Homo sapiens: one gene and its partner. The protein of the gene in region 2 purifies or fractionates together with the protein of the main gene of each other region. This does not show direct contact. Each region holds a gene or a part of one and is shown on either strand. Other genes may lie near its edges.

Region 1 (3,815 bases), on a different chromosome or scaffold from region 2:
ACAAAGCTTAGAAACAAGCTTCAAACAGACCAAGCTGACGCACAAGCTCATTACCTACCTGCGAGAATAAAACCCAAGACTCTAAGCTTAAAGAAAGACAACACAGGCAGGGCACAGTGGCTCCCGCCTGTAAGCCCAGCACTTCGGGAGGCCGAGGAGGGAGAATCGCTTGACCCAAGGAGTGTGAGAACAGCTTGGGCAACATGGCAAGACCCCATCTTTATATATATTTTTAAGTTATGTTTCAAGATTTAAAAGAAAAGATGGACATAATGGTTTATCAGATGGGGAATCTCTACAATAAAAAGCGTTAAATTCATTAGATGGGGCCGGGTGTGGTGGCTCATGCCTGTAATCCCAGCACTTTAGGAGGCCAAGGTGAGAGGACTGCTTGAGCCCAGGAGTTTGAGACCTGCCTGGGTGACATAGGGAGACCCCATCTCTACAAAAAAAAAAAAAAAAAAAAAAAAAAAGTAGCCGGCACGTGGCCCACGCCAGTAGTCTTGGCAACTCAAGAGGCTGAATGAAGCAGGATGATTGTTTGAGCCTGGGAGGTTCGGGCTGCAGTGAGCCATGACTGTGCCACTGCACTCCAGCCTGGGCAACAGAGCAAGACCCTGTCTCAAGAAATTAAAAAAAAATTCATTTGATGGGCTTCAGTATATTAAAAACAAGAAAGAAAAGAGTAGTGAACTTGAAGACAAGCCAACAGAAATCATCCAAAATGAATTGCAAAGATAAAGACTGAGAAAAAACAAACAGAGCTTCAGCAACGTATGGGACAATAAAGTTCCAGAAGGAAAGGGAGAGATCATGCAGAAAAAGTAATTTATAGAAGCAATGGCTTGAAATGTATTAAATTTGACAAAAATGATCATCCCACAGACCCAGAAGTTTAAAGAGCCCCAAGCAGGACGAAAGCAAAAACCACAATGGTCAAATTGCTGAAGCCAAAATTAAATGCAAAATCTTAAGGCAGAGAATCAAAGGGTGCCATTATACACAGTTTATAAGGATAAGAATCAACACCAACTTCTAAGCAGAAACAATACAGGCCAGAAAACAAAGTAATATCTTTTTTTTTTTTTTTTTTGAGGCAGAGTCTCACTCATGTCGCCCAGGCTGCAGTGCAGTGGCGCGATCTCAGCTCAGTGCAGCCTCCACCTCCCGGGTTGAAGCGATTCTCCTGCCTCAGCCTCCTGAGTAGCTGGGATTACAGGCACCCGCCACCATGCTCAGCTCATTTTTATATTTTAGTAGAGACGGGGTTTCACCATATTTGCCAGGCTGGTCTCGAACTCCTGACCTCAGGTTATCCACCTGCCTCAGCCTCCCAAAGTGCTGGGATGACAGGCGTGAGCCGCTGCGCCCAGCCTAGTAATGAGATCTTTTAAAGTGACATCAGTTTAACTGCTGAATTAAAAAAAAAAAAAAAAAAAAGAAGCAGCTGTCAACCTAGAAATGCATATCCAGAGAAAATGCCCTTTGCAAAATAAAGGCACCAAGATGTTTTCAGATAAACAAAAGCTGAGGGGATTTGTGACTGGCAGCTCTGCATTACAAGAAATATTAAAAATTCTTCAGGCTGAAGAGAAATAATAACCAGACCAGATTATACTGAAAGAATGAAGAATGTTATAAATGGCAAAAATAGAAGACTTTTTCCTTCTTTCTTAATTTCCTTAAAACAAAGTTGACTATTTAAAACAAAAACAGGGCCGGGCACGGTGGCTCACGCCTGTAATCCCAGCACTTTGCAAGGCCAAGGCGGGCGGATCACCTGAGGTCAGGAGTTTGAGACTAGCCTGGCCAACACAGTGAAACCCCGTCTCTACTAAAAATACAAAAAAAATTTAGCCGGGCATGATGGTGGGTGCCTCTAATCCCAGCTACTTGGGAGGCTGAGACAGGAGAATCACCTGAACTCAGAGGCAGAGGTTGCAGTGAACCGAGATCGCACCACCGCTCTCCAGCCTGGGTGACTGAGGGAGACTCCATCTCTCAAAAAAAAAAAAAAAAAAAAAAAAAAAACCATACTGGGTGTTTATGTCATACGTAAAAATAAAATGTGTGACAGTAACAGGACAGGAAAGGCATGAATGGACACACACTGCCGTAAGGCTCTTCTGGTGTCAACAGGGTGATGTAATTTCAAGTCAGATGATTATAGCCCCCAGCAACCCCTGAAACACAACACAGAGATGTACAGCTCAACTCACAGTAGACAGAATACTAAAAACACTTGTTTTTTAAAAAAAGAAAAGAAAGAAAGGAAAAAAAATCAAAGGGACAAAGAGAAAACAAAGAGCAAGATGACAGACTTAAACCCAGCCACATCAATAGTAACAGTAAATTAAAATGGGCTAAAAATTCCAATTAAAAAAACCCATTAGACTGGATAACAAGAAGACCCAACTACATCTACATTCTGTGTACAAGAAACTCACCTTAAACATAAACACACAGACCAGTAAAAAATACAAGAAAACAACAGAGCAAGCTGACACTGGTCATGACAAAGCTGAGTGACTCTGTTAGCACCAATGAGACCGCGTCAACTTTAAGACAATGAGCATCGCTAGAGAGAAAAAGGGACTGCTGTCTGTGCTTTGTGGGTCACCTCCATCACAAACCATGACTCCCGTACTCCCCCAAACCCTGTGCCCCATGCTAAGTCACTGAAATAAATGACTCATTTAAGCCTCACAACTTCCCTGTAAGGCAGGAATCAGCATTTCCACTTTCTGCACAAGGAACCAGAAGCTCTAAGATGCTTAGATAACTAGGCCAGGCACGGTGGCTCACGCCTGTAATCCCAGCACTTTGGGAGGCCGAGGCAGGTGGATCACGAGGTCAGGAGATCGAGACCATCCTGGCTAACACGGTAAAACCCCGTCTCCACTAAAAATACAAAAAATTAGCTGGGCGTGGTGGTGGGCACCTGTAGTCCCAGCTACTCGAGAGGCTGAGGCAGGAGAATGGTGTGAACCCGGGAGACGGAGCTTGCAGTGAGCGGAGATCGCGCCACTACACTCCAGCCTGGGCGACAGAGCGAGACTCCATCTCAAAATAAAAAAAAAAAGATAACCTCTAAGGCCACACAGCCAACAGTGGGGAGCTGAGTGCAGGTCCCCCCGTGGCCTAGGTCCAAGGTCCACACTCCTCTGCCTGCTCAGTCCCACAGAGACTCCGGGATGGCCCCAAAAGGTAGCACCACGCGCAGGACACTGCCTCAGGCCTTACACACCAACCCAGCCACCACCCAATCGCAGTCTCCTTTCTCCCTCCCAGGCATCTCTGCCTTGTTCAGTCCAGGCCCACCAGGGATGGCACAGTGAGGGGTAAGAGAGGCCTCAATGTCAACCCCAAGCTCTCAGGGCAAGAACCCAGAGCTGCTCACGTTAGGTGGGGCAGGCGGTCTGGCAGAGGGAGTAAAACACTGTCGTCTCTAAGGGCTGACTCCTCAACAGGTGCCTGAGCTGCTCAAAGCCAGGTCAGGGAAAACACACGTGCTCAGAGTGGAGGCTGTGTACTGAGACCTGAGGGTCTCTGATGACGGCCCTCCTGTCACTGTCTGGAAGCACCCACTGAGTGGTGCGGGGCCCTGGGGAGCCACAGCCACCCCAGGCCAGTAGGCAGTTCACATGGTGGGGAGACGGCAGGGCCACACCAACCCCCAGGGGTAACCGGACTTACGTGCATGTACGAGTGTACACACACACGCACGACCCTGGTGTCTGAGCGAGAGGAGGGGGGTGCCAGGCCAGACCCTGCTCTGGGATCACACGCACCTCCAGCAGGCGTGAGATGGCGTC
Region 2 (3,815 bases):
CAGCTCATGTTGATCTTTCCCGGAACTGCCAGGCTTGAACATTTTACCACTGCAAATGTTAGGTACACAGGCAGAGTTTCAGAAAAATCTACTGGAAAACTTCCAAAACTTGCTTAAAAGTCAACAATGAATGTAAAGTGTAAGCGCTACTTAGTTTTCAGCATGTAGGAAATTAGGACCAAACCCCTTTGGGGCAATCTAGGTTCAGAAACTTTATGAAGTATTTGACCTGTACCCTAAAAAAGTCTGCACTCAATTCTACCTTGGCAGGAAGGAACCTCTTCTGTCCATTGTCCCTGAGATGTGCACTCAAGTTGAGTTGATCCATGTAATTCAAATCCCTCCTCACAGCTGAAGGCACAAGAGGACTTGTAGGTGAATTCTCCAATAGGGGAATGAGCACACCTCACCAAACCCTTCGGGGGCTGGTGGACAGCATCGCATCTCACAGCTGGAACACACGAGAGAGCACTTTAGAAGTTTGTTTGCATCTCCAGCAATACGTTTCCCAAGGTAACCAAGTTCCCAAGCTCTTCAATAGTTCTTTTTATCTTAAAATAAAATAAAAACAAAGACTGTACCTTCACATGTGGGCTTCTCGTTGTCCCACTCCCCTGTGGGGCCACATTGGAGCCTTTTGGATCCCTTCAACACAAAACCCTGCTCACAGGAGAACTCACAGCTGGACCCATAACGGAAACTGCCAGAAGCACTAGGAAGACAATTCATGTAGCCTCGCTCGGGGTTGGACAAGGCTGTGCACTGGAAAGCTGAGACATCAAAATGATGGTCAGAAAATATTGCAGTGGAACTAGAGAGTACTTGGCGTTTGTTGAGTGAACCCAGTTCATTCAAGCAACACTTGGAGAACTGAAGATTCTTTATAATTCCCTGGACAAATGGGAAGATGGCTGTGTTTTCTTTGAATTTCAGCCCCCTCACTGATCATGGCACTAATTAAAAGACTAATTAATCAGAACATTAGTTCCTGAGCACTGTTCTTCTAACACACAAAATAAATTATGGTCCAAGGAAAGATTTCACGCAGTCTGAGGACAACATATGGGTCATGGATGTTTATAGATGGTGCCAAAAAGAAAGAAAAGAAAGCACCCCTATAAAATTTGTCTGTTTTGCAGTTTGGTTTTTGTGTTATGTTTTGCTACTGGAAATCATTCTGTGCTGGCTTTGGCTAGGACAAGGCCAGTGCCTGATAGTAAAAACTGCTTGTTTTCAATATCCTTGCTCTCACTTTAAAGTGAATTAAAATTTACTGCTTATATATGCATCAATACTATCTCTGTAGCTGACACCATGCTTGAAACAGTCTCATCACTGCTAATTATGAGCCATTTCAGAAGACAGGTGTGATGAGAGTTTTACATTCAAATCATGTTCTCATTATTCTGCTTTCCGAATTTTCTAATATGATTCCTTTAGATTAAGAATTCTGTCTATTCCATGCTAATGTCTACAAAGTTTTATCAGCACATCACAGTTAAAAAAAAACAGCAAAGAATTCATTCTTAACACATATGATCCTTTCCCTGGCCAAACATTAGTTCTTTTAAATGAATCTCAAAGATACGAGGGTTGCTCATCAAATCTGATTTCTATAGTTAAAGTGGGTATTGGTTTTTTTTTTCACTGTCCAAGTTTGAAGATGGTTGTTCTTTAAGAAAGTATAAATCGAAGGATCTCAAGCTTACCTTCACAAACTGGGATTTGCTGTGTCCACTGCCCTTGAGTGGTGCATTCAACCTGGGCTGGTCCCTGCAACATGAAGCCTTCCTCACAGGTGAAGTTGCAGGATGATTTGAAGGTGAACTCTCCAGCAGGGGAATGGCTGCACCTCACAGAGCCATTCTGAGGCTGGCGGACGGCCCTGCATGTCACAGCTGTAACAAATATACGCATTGATATTAGCACGGCCTAGAATTAGCTTGCCCATTTCCAGTATGGGTTGAGAGAAAGAATGTTCACAGTAAGTCTCCATGTGGAACAACTCTACCTTTACACGTTGGCTTCTCGTTGTCCCAATTCCCAGATGAGGTACACTGAAGGCTCTGGGCTCCCATTAGTTCAAATCCTTCTTCACAGTCAAATGTACAGGTTGTGTTCCATGGGAAGCTTCCAGGGTTTTGGAAACATTCCACGAACCCATTGGCTGGATTTGTCACAGCATCACACTCAACCACTGAGGATTTTAAAGAGCACCATGAATTTTACAGAAGAATGATCTTTTCACTTCCTATTGAGCTGGGTGCCTAACAGAGTGAGGAAGCTGCCTTCAAAGGGTAGATCCCAAAGTCCTATGTCAATTCTTAGGGACATGCACAGCCAGAATAAAAGCTTTTATTCTTTTTCATGGATATTCTATCTTTTCTGATTTCCACTTTGCCTATGCTGAGTGGTCTCTAATCTATGTTATCATTTACGTGAGGTAAAAATTTAAAAAAAATAGATTCCAGATTAGGAGTTATGACTAGTACTGACATACGTAGGCTATTCATTTATTTTAGCCCATCAGAGCCTGAAGAACTGATTTTTCTTTTTTTGGCCTCTGGTTCAGAAAGATAAAATTAAGAGAGAAAAAGAGATACTAAGACTGCTTGACTATCATGGTCTTAAGTTAGTCCCATGGCTTGGAAAAGTTAAACAGGGAAACAAGATGAGAAATCCATTGAGATTTCTAGAGCTTTATTGTTTTATGGTCTCCCTTACAAATCACCAGAGCCTCAGAAACACCCATTTCAAGCATAGAATAAAAAAACCTCTCTCAACCCAAGCAGGTACTGGGTTGGCAATATACATTGGCTGAGAGAACAAATTGTATTAAAAACAAAAACAAAAAAAAAACTTTCCCTGAAGTTTTGAAAATGTAAGTTGAATCAAAAAACAGAAGCAATGAGGGATGAGTTACAGAACGTTCTGTGCATTCTCAGAGGGATTTACCATTGCAGGCTGGAATAGGAGCACTCCATTCTCCAGAGGACATACACTGCATGGTCTCCATGCTGCTTGGCAGGTAACCCCTATCACAGCTGATAGAGCAGGAAGAATTGTAGCTGAAGTTTCCCAGTGGGTGACTGCAAACCAGGCTTCCATGCTCAGGGGATTCCAGGGCTGTACAGTTCACAACTGAAAAAGAAACCCAAATCAGTTCTGCTCATCTCTCACCTTTAACAGATAAGAACACTGGAAACTAGAACTACAGTTTGGTTTTTTTTTTTTTTAGTTTAAAAATTTATAAAATTTCTAATGGAATTTGTAAAATTGACTGTAATTCTACCCCTTTTCTTTTATTCAAGAAAATGCTGATCCATAACAACAACAACAAAAAAGCAGTGATGACAACCATAAAAAAGAAATATTGAGTGATATGGGGAGAGTAGTGTAATTGTGTTTACCTCAAAACTGTTCAAATTATATGAACAAACACAGCAAACTTAGGTACCACAACAAATTTCTTGTTACTTTTCTCACAACTGCTAAAAATACTACAGTAAGCTTCCAACCAGGATGAGAACCATTCACAAAGCTATATTTCAAATTTAAGTACTAGAATACATTACAAATTTTAAAACCCTAATGCTGCACTGTCTACTATAGTAGCCACTATCTGTGTGGCTACTCAAATTTAAACTTGAATTCGTTGAAATCAAATAACATTTAAAATTCAGTTCCTCAGTGTCACCAGCCACATTTCAAGTACTCAATAACCACATGTGGCTCATAGGTACACACTGGAAAACACAGCTATGGAACATTTCCATTATCACAAAAGCTCTACTGCACAACGCTGTGCTAAGGAA

Evidence for each region.
Region 1: the proteins of SELE (region 2) and SBF1 purify together in Homo sapiens (affinity purification with mass spectrometry; 2 studies listed by BioGRID and IntAct, with this or other methods). This does not show direct contact.

Annotation. Positions count from the first base shown.
Region 1 is NC_000022.11:50,450,721-50,454,535, forward strand, and holds part of SBF1 (myotubularin-related protein 5), read right to left. Parts: coding exon 3,792-3,815; intron 1-3,791. UniProt on the Homo sapiens protein: Acts as an adapter for the phosphatase MTMR2 to regulate MTMR2 catalytic activity and subcellular location. Promotes the exchange of GDP to GTP, converting inactive GDP-bound Rab proteins into their active GTP-bound form.
Region 2 is NC_000001.11:169,727,477-169,731,291, forward strand, and holds part of SELE (E-selectin precursor), read right to left. Parts: intron 3,142-3,815; coding exon 2,956-3,141; intron 2,198-2,955; coding exon 2,012-2,197; intron 1,899-2,011; coding exon 1,710-1,898; intron 771-1,709; coding exon 582-770; intron 452-581; coding exon 263-451; intron 50-262; coding exon 1-49. UniProt on the Homo sapiens protein: Cell-surface glycoprotein having a role in immunoadhesion. Mediates in the adhesion of blood neutrophils in cytokine-activated endothelium through interaction with SELPLG/PSGL1. May have a role in capillary morphogenesis.